2 separate regions of the Homo sapiens genome follow, and region 1 is linked to region 2. Evidence: fine-mapped expression QTL. A gene starts in region 2. The other region holds a variant in brackets. All regions are shown on one strand. Distances are from middle to middle.

Region 1 (4,397 bases), 850 kb after region 2:
TCAGGAATTTTGTAGGCTGATTGTTAAAAATGACTGCTGGCTTGAAATCAGCCACGGTGAGAATATTTCCATTACAGAAGTTGGCAAATGCTACAAATCAGGACATTTTCTTTTTGGAGAGCTGGTTTACCAGCATCCCACTAATTCAAACCCAGGCAGTCTGAGTCAGGGTCCATTCTTCACCACTGTTGGTGCCACTGCCCCATTAGTACTCTTACACATTCTACAGAAAACTGGGACGTGGAAGAGGAAAATCACCTGCTCAGGTTTAAAGACCGAGTAAAAAGTCAGAGCTGGTGTTCAAACTCAGATTTGCTGAAGGCTACCAGCAGCATGCAGCATGCGGCATGCTTAGAAGCACTGTGCTAACCTCAGTGTGACTAGATTAGCTGCCACTTCTCCTGAGAAGTAGAAGCAGAGACAGGCAGCTCCCCTTCTAGAGCTCCCCAGCACTTCAAACATCTATTAGAAGTGCAGGGGACAGATACTTGCTCTCTTAGAGTGTGAGCCCTCGGGGATGGTGCAGGATCTCATTCACAGGTGCATTTCTAGCCTCTGGTGAAACTCCTCAGTAATGAAACTCTCACGTAACTAACTCAAAAATCCAACCTGGAAAAATATAAAGCGTCCGTCGTGCCTCCAGAAGTTGGTGACCGGGAAGCCCCCATGACCTCGGCAAGGGATGAGCTTCAGAGGCCCGTCACAGTTGGGACAGCGTTTCCCTACAAAAGAGCAGAGGAAAATGACCACACCTGGCTGAACCATGTCGGTTGTTGACTCCTGTGCAGTCTTGAAGATTTTAGCCCTGACTCAAGGACGGCAGAGTATAAATCTGGGCAGAGTTTCATGGGCTGAAATCCACTAGATATTACCCCTGACCCTCAGAAGCCTGGCCACTAAAATGGCCCACATGGGTCTCACACATGGATAGGGGAAGTGGTTGCCTACCAAGTAGGATATTTCACAGGTCAAGGCAGAGCTCTTCTGAGCAGAAAACCCCTCCCTACTTATTTAGTGATATTTGAAATTCTGACCAGGCACAGTGGCTCACACCCATAATCCCAGCACTTTGGGAGGCCAAGGCAGGCGGATCCACTTGAGGCCAGAAGCTCGAGACTAGCCTGGCCAATATGGTGAAATCCCATCTCTACTAAAAATACAAAAATTAGCTGGGCGTGGTGGTGCACACCTGTAGTCCCAGCTACTAGGGAGGCTGAGGCAGGAGAATCGCTTGAACCTGGGAGGTGGAGGTTGCAGTGAGCCGAGATGGCACCAATGCATGCCAGCTTGGGTGACAGAGTGAAAGTCTGTCTCAAAAATAAAAAAGAGAAGTTCTTTCACTTCACAATTAGAACTAAGGGTCAAGGGGCCAAGCTACATGGGAGAGTGAATGCAGCTACTACATTTTCACAGAGGTGTAAATGACTGATACCAGGTCCTGACCTAAGAGCAAGTTTTTAAAACAAACTACTGGGAAAAATATAAAGTAACTTGAGGTTTGAAGTGGGCAATGTACAGGGCATGCTGAATGTATCTATTTCATAATCCAGTGAATGTGTTTTAGAAAATGAACAAATATCTCAGCACGTGATTATGATGTGAACCTAAATGAATGGAATTGAGTCTAACCTTTCACAGCTGCCACTCCACATTAATGCACACATTGAGATCACTTAGGGACCCACAAGAAGTCCAGTGGCAAGTCCAATAAACTACTTTCTTCTAAATTTTACATGGGT[C/A]ATTGATGAATTAACATTAACCCCTGAAGGGATACATTTTTCCTTTTATTTTTGGATGGAGTCTGTCACCCAGGCTGGAGTGCAGTGGCACAACATTGGCCCACTGCAACCTCCACCTTCTGGGTTCGAGTGATTCTCCTGCCTCAGCCTCCCGAGTAGCTGGGATTACAGGCACACACCACCACACCCGGCAAATGTGTGTGTGTGTGTGTGTGTGTGTGTGTTTGTGTGTTTTAGTAGAGATGGGTCTTCACCATATTGGGCAGGCTGGTCTTGAACTCCTGACCTCAGGTGATCTGCCTACCTCAGCCTCCCAAAGTGCTGGGATTGTAGGCATGAGCCACAGTGCCCGGCCATTTTTCCTTTCTTTTTGGAGATAGGATCTCACTCTATTGTGCGGCCTGGAGTGCAGTGGCTCCATTATGGCTCACTGCAGCCTTGACTTTCCAGGCTGAAGCAATCCTTCTGCCTCAGCCTCTGGAGTAGCTGTGACCACAGGCATATGCAACCACACCCGACTAATTTTTAAATTTTTTTGTAGGGGTTGGGGTCTTCTTATGTTGCCCCGGCTGGTCTGGAACACCTGGCCTCAATTTATCCTCTCATCTTGGCCTCCCAAAGTGCTGAGATTACAGGTGTGAGCCACCACACCTGCCATCTTCCCTTTAACAGGAGCCTTCAGTCCAGTGCCTTAACCCAAGGAGGCATTTTTGATGGTGGGTGCTCTGGGTATGGCAGATATGTGGGGTCCTTGCTGGAGCACAAGGGATCTGGTTGGTTCCGCTCCATATGCTCCATGTCAGAACAGCCTTGGCTGCCACTACACTCCAGGGTGATGGTTTTGCCCTTGGGCGGTGCTGGGACACAGTGACCCATCTGGCAGGGGCATCTGAGGGATGCCAGCTTTTTTGCTGGTGCCACTAAGCTCTACTCACGCTGCTGCTTCTGCCGGGCCTTGTCACAGATGGCAGGTCTCAGGTAGATCTTGCGCCCCTCCTCTGCGAGACAGTCGCGGCCGCACACCACCACACCCAGGCAGGACTTCTTGAGGATGCGGGAGTTGTGGTTGTTGGTATTGCGCATGGCCCAGCTGCTCAGGTGCCGCTGCGCATTCTTGTCCTCCGAGCTGTAGATGTGTTTGGCATAGGAATCTGGCCACTCCTGGAACCAGTCGGTTTTTTTCACGTTCTGATAGAAACACAAAAGATACGACTATACTTTAAGCTAGAAAACACAGCTGTCACCCACTGTGGAGTGAGTAGATAGGAAGGATGTTTTGGCATTCAGGAGCTGGGCAAGAGACCTTTGGCAAAAGCCTCCCTACATTTAATTCTGACAGTGGGATCAGCGAGCCCAGCACAACAGTGGCAACTGAGTGCTGTGTCTGTCAGGCATTCAGCCGCTGGACCAAAATAAATGATAGCCCCTGTGAGTTCCATCTGATTGACACTTCCCTAGCCCTCAGTGACACAAGAAATGACCATTTCTCAGTAGGAATTTTTGAAGGTTAAGTAATGCTATGCTCTTACACAATAACTATAGAAAACAGGGCCCAGTGTGGTAGGGTGTGCCTGCAGTCCTAGCAACTCAGGAGGCTGAGGTGGGAGGATGGCTTGAGGCCAGGGGTTCAAGACCAGCCTGGGCAACACAGCAAGACCCCTTCTCTAAAAACTCAAAATAAACTGTGGAAAACATTGTGGCGGGATAGTGAGATAATGTCTCGTACCACTCTGTGGTTATCTTACTGGGAGTCACACAGGTTTATGCAATGTCGCCAGAGATAAGCAGTGGGAGGGATGAAAAGCCCTGGTTCAGAGAGATCAAAGAGCCACTTTCTTCCCCAGAGATTTTCTTCCTTTATCTTTAACCCTACGTTCACGTGCCTCAAACATGACAAGGGAGTAAGAAAGAGCTTGTTTTGACTGAAAGCGTCTCTGTTATTGCCCAGGATTGGCGCTATGCCCTGTGTATGAACATTTGACTAAACTCTCCTTTAAAACATCACAGACAAGGAGAGTTGTCATTCAACGGACAAAGTTTCCATTTGCAAGATGAAAAGGTTCTAGAGCTCCTTTGCACAACAGTGTACATATAGTTACCACGACTGTACTATGCACTTAAACATGGTTAAGATGGTAAATTTTAAGTTGTGTTTTTGACCAAAATAAAATAATAATTAAAGAAAGGCCAGGGACACCAGACACTCAGTCCTTATAGCATACATTATTTTGCTCTCTGTGCCTCTGTTTCTTCATCTGTAATGTAGGGATAATGAGACCTGCCTACCTGAAGAGTTGTTCTGAAGATTAAATATGATTATATATATTAAATACTTAGCACAGCACCTAGCATGCTGTAAGCTCTAAATAATTGTTAGTCACTGATGCTGTGGCTCATATTCCTAGGCCCTACATTGGTGCACAGATGCTGCATTTGACAGACCCTTCCTTGTTCTTAGAATGAGAAACAGCAAGCAGTGTCAGCACTCAAACTTAGGCTGTGCCCATGCCCTACGGCTTTCAGAGACTTAGCATGGTGTAAGAACATTTTTCATCTAGACGGTTCTAGAAGGTGAAAATAGAAGATTCTAGAAGGTCCAGAAGAAAAGACTAGGCTGCTTCTTCTTTGCTTTCCCAACCAGAAAGCACAGCCCACAAC
Region 2 (4,397 bases):
AAAGGCATTGTTCAGAAGCCTGTACATAAGCAAGAGAAAGAAAAATTAGACTGGGCAGAACTCAAAAAAATGGATCCTCAAAACAGCAGACATTCTTAGATCATTAAAAACAATGAGAAAATCCAGCTTCTGCTTTCTCCTATAAGTCTCAGTAAAACACCATCCTATAAGACTCAGTAAAATACCAGAACTAAGGACCAACTTCACCTCAACTTATCAAAGATATAAAAATGATATTCAGCTAAACATTGGAAGGAGGGGCATTTGGGAGGAAAATGCCAACCACCCACTTTTTGAAAAAAAAAAAAAAAAAAATAGGTGCAGGTGAGCTACGAGGGCTTGTAGATCAATCCTGTTTCATACAAGTCCTCTCCTGAGAGGCTGTTCCAATCTGGCCAAGAGGGAAGGGAGCCATTCTCACTGACAGCCAGTATATCCCCTTGCCTCTCACCGGTTAGCCCTCTTCTCGTTTTTCCTGCGCAGGTCATTCACATTGACAATCAGCCGGTATTGGTTGTCACTGATCAGCTCCCGAACTTTGCTCTGATAAATTCCCTGGTCTTCCTGCAAAACAGCCACCACATATCACCATAGCCACAAATTTAAAAACAATGTTTCTAAACAGAAGTAGTTCTCATAGCCAGATAGCTAAGTCAATCTCTGCAGCAGAGCTGAATCCCCAGTAAGTATGTGCTCATCAATTTCTCCCTTTCATTCACTGTTTTTAGATTCGAAATAACACCCTAAGAGGGGACTATAAGAATTATAATGACTTCCTCAAGGTCCATGCTGTTATTCCCATCATCATGGACAACTTTTCTGCATGCTGTAATTTCTGTCTTTAGTGGAGAATTAAAATGAGCTCATGAGAAGTCTAAATGGACAGTAAGTGCAAACTTTGTTAAAATGTTAAGTTAAACCTAGCAATGTGAATGTTAAAGGTAACAACGTGAATAGATGGATATGTTGTTTCACTGTAGTAATCATTTCACCATGTATATCAAAACATGTGCACTTCAAATATATACAATAAAAATGTAAATAAAACAGACTCTTAATAGTCACATTAAAATGGCTTTTCATTTAAGAATTATGTAAAAAGTAATATTTTTTCCAATCATCTCTATAATACGGAAAGGGTTCTCATACCCCGACCTAAAGGAATAGAGAATCTCAGCTATTTGGTCACATCATCAACCCTTCAAGATGGTTTTTTCAACATTCTATGGCTTTAAGTCTTGGGTTGCACATAAAATCCCCTTGGCCTGCACACAAAACACTTTTTATCTGCATCTTAGTTGGTATTGAAAAAGAATGCAGCCGAATTATGGAGTCTTTTCCTCCAGGTAAAACGTCAGTCCCTAAAATCTGAGCACTCTGCAACGCGGCTGGTCACTATAGCCCTAGGGCAGCCCCTCCCCCACAGTCTCCTCAAATCAAGAGAGAGCAGTGAAATGCAAAAGGCCGAGGTGGGCTTTGCCAATCTGCTTGCACTTAATGGGAACCTGTCGCCTTTTGCGCGCCCGGACCATCGCTTGTACTTAAGAGAAAGCTGGCTTCCTAAGAGTTCACTTATCGAACACAAACTAGCGAGTCCGGCGTTGAGAAGTTACAAGATTGGGGCTGGAGGCTCGGGCCCGGCAGGCTCCGCTGCGGCACACGGTCTGGAGGTCTGGCGGGCCTCTGGCTTCCCGGCCGGGCCGCGTCCGCAGGGGCTCCGAGCGCTAGAGCCCGCGCGCCGGCGCCTCCCTCACCTCGTCGTCCAGGAAGTCCAGGTAATCTCTCTGAGCCTCCCGCAGCTCCACATCGTCCAGCACCACGGTACCCGCCATGCCCGCTGCCAAAGAACTACCTCCACCAAAGTCGCGTGGAGGTTCCCAGGATGACTCCACCCCGGCGCGAAAACTTCCGAACTCTTCCCGCCACCAAAGGTTACCTCGAGGAAGAGGCGGGGACCTTGGGAGCATATAAGCATTATGATTGGCTGAGTTCTCTGAGGTCGGACTAGCGACTGTCCAATCAAAAGCTTCTTCTTCTTCGGGTTTTCCGCTGCGCGCCCCGCGGTGGCGGGAAACGTACCATCCGGGATTCTCTGTTCCTCCCCTCCCTCCGCCTCACTCACTGACGAGCAAACTGACCAATAGGGCTGAGAGGAGGCTCACAGAGGCTGGTCATTGAGCAGCTGGAGGGGACAGGCTGGCGAGAGGGAAAGCATTGCGTTCTGGGAGTTGTAGTGTTCTCCCTCCTTTCCGGATGTTTTTGCAGGGTTTTTCAAGCTGCAGAACTTTTGACCCGATGCAACGACCAAATTCAGAGGATGGTGCTTTATAACGCAGGGAGATGAAAACATAAAAGCAAATCATTTTTAAGATATATCCAAATCAGAACTGCCCTCCAGTGGCATCCTAGTGTAAAAGTGGATTTTGAGAATCTATAGGATAGAATATAGAACTACAGTACCTTAGGGAAAGATTAGTTAAAAACCCATTTGCTATCTGATACCGTTGCCTGACGAACTCCATAAAGACATCGCCGCAGAGAAGGATGAAGTGAAAAAAAAAATCTGTGTTTACCCTGCCCCCTAGAGACTTCATCGTGTGTTATACAAATTTTGGAAACCGTTACTACTCCATCTTACTTAATAACAGGTAAATTAAAGGCTTTCTGGTCTTATAAAAAGATCACAAGATCCTTTTAAGTAACTTAGCTTACTGAACGATCAGCTCAAGAGGGGAAAAAGTGTTTCACGTCACTTTGATTAAATATCAATCAGTAACTAACAGCAAATCTGAAACCATAATGACTAAAAGATCATCGCACGTCCAAATTTGTATGTTTGTTTTCAGTCCGTCGTGGTTGGCTTTTTCTTATATTTCTAGTTTTATTTTGAGATATAATGTATATACAGTAAAATGCACAAATCTTAAGTGTACAGCTCAGTGAATTTTTACCTGTGCTTACACCCATGTAACCACTCTGCACAATAAAGAGCAAGCCCATTGCCCCAGCATGTGTTTTTAATTTTACTGAACAAGAAGCTGAAATACTGGATTGCCCAACATCAGACATTTGATAATTCTTTATCTGAAATTTCAGCCAACTATTAGCTTATGTTTTAAAGTCTTCAGGACTCACTATGTACTGATAAATATTCTAAGAATAATCTGCCTAAACAAAATATATAGGCCATCTATTTGTGTGGGTATATGTATTTCTAGTTATTATTCAGTTTATAGTTACTGTATGTTTTGTGCCATCCTAGTGGGCAGATAAATCGATCCTTAGCCAAAGCAAAAAGGCTGTCATTTGACTGCTTGCTTTTATGTTTATTAACGGGCAAAAAAAAAAGAAAATTCTAGAATAAAGATACTGTTTGCCGTTATATAGCAAGAGGTAATTACTGATTTATTAAGACTTTTTACTCATAACTCTTATTTTATGAACTTATTGGACAGAGTACTGAGATATCCTCTGCTCTGGAAACAATTTGAAATTAACACTAAAAGAACCGGGAAGCTTAGTTCAAACTAGCAAAGAAGTCGAGTCATTTGTAGTAGAAAGTCCAAAAGAGTGGAAATCTGAAAACCACATCTTTGATTCTCACACTTTTTTCTGGGCTTGTTTCCTTATATACAGTATAAGATGAAGAAACTGAATTAGAATATCTCTGATAATCTGTCTTACTCTAACATTCCATGAGCTAATGGCAAATTTGGAAACTATGTAAAGACAATTCTATTTAATGAATTAATCATGCCATGGTCTTTGATAAAGACTTGATTTGTCCCAATATAATCATCTTCAGCTGTGAAGGACACACCGCTATTTAATTGGTGTTTCTCCCTTCTTTCATTAGGGCATGAAATCTTTAAGCAGAGGAAATGTATTTCCTTTGTTATCCCCGACACCTGCAAACTGCCCAAAATCAATCAGGTTGTTGCTACAGAAAAATTAGGGGCATTTGTACATATCTCATAAAAAGTCCAGCTGAGCTTAGCCCGTAGTCCTCCTCTATCCTGATTCAAAATTAAAAAGCACATATAATCTAATAAAGTAGTGTATCTACAGTTTCCATACTTGGGTCACATTCCTGCTTTCCTCCATTTCAATTTTCTTTCCACCCTAGACTTTAATGGACTCAAGCCCATCTCCAAGGCTGCCTAAACGCTAGGGGGCTCCCTGGAGAGCAGAGTATACAGGAAGAGAATGGAAAGAAAACAAGATTGCAAAGAGATTGCAAAATAGATGTAATACTGCCATTTTTCTATGTCCTCAGGGTCCAAAAAATACCCAAAGACACAATACAAATCCATAATAAATATTATTACAAGAAATTATATATACCTTTGTTCAAACTAATGAACATTATATGTTGCAAAACATTTCAAATAATACCC

What was found.
Region 1: its variant is fine-mapped to the expression of MCM3 in prefrontal cortex (GTEx, PIP 0.95).

Annotation. Positions count from the first base shown.
Region 1 is chr6:53,131,398-53,135,794 of GRCh38, forward strand. It overlaps GCM1 (glial cells missing transcription factor 1), which reads right to left. Exons shown (of 6, transcript NM_003643.4): 3 at 2,675-2,927; 4 at 610-722. Among named protein-coding and RNA genes, the nearest start is that of GCM1, 15 kb to the right of the region's middle. The variant C/A (reference allele first, on the strand shown) is at 1,740.
Region 2 is chr6:52,282,843-52,287,239 of GRCh38, forward strand. MCM3 (minichromosome maintenance complex component 3) reads right to left here and starts at 1,900. Exons shown (of 17, transcript NM_002388.6): 1 at 1,755-1,900; 2 at 452-564; 3 at 1-19. The coding sequence starts at 1,832. RefSeq lists enhancers at 1,778-1,857, 2,178-2,377.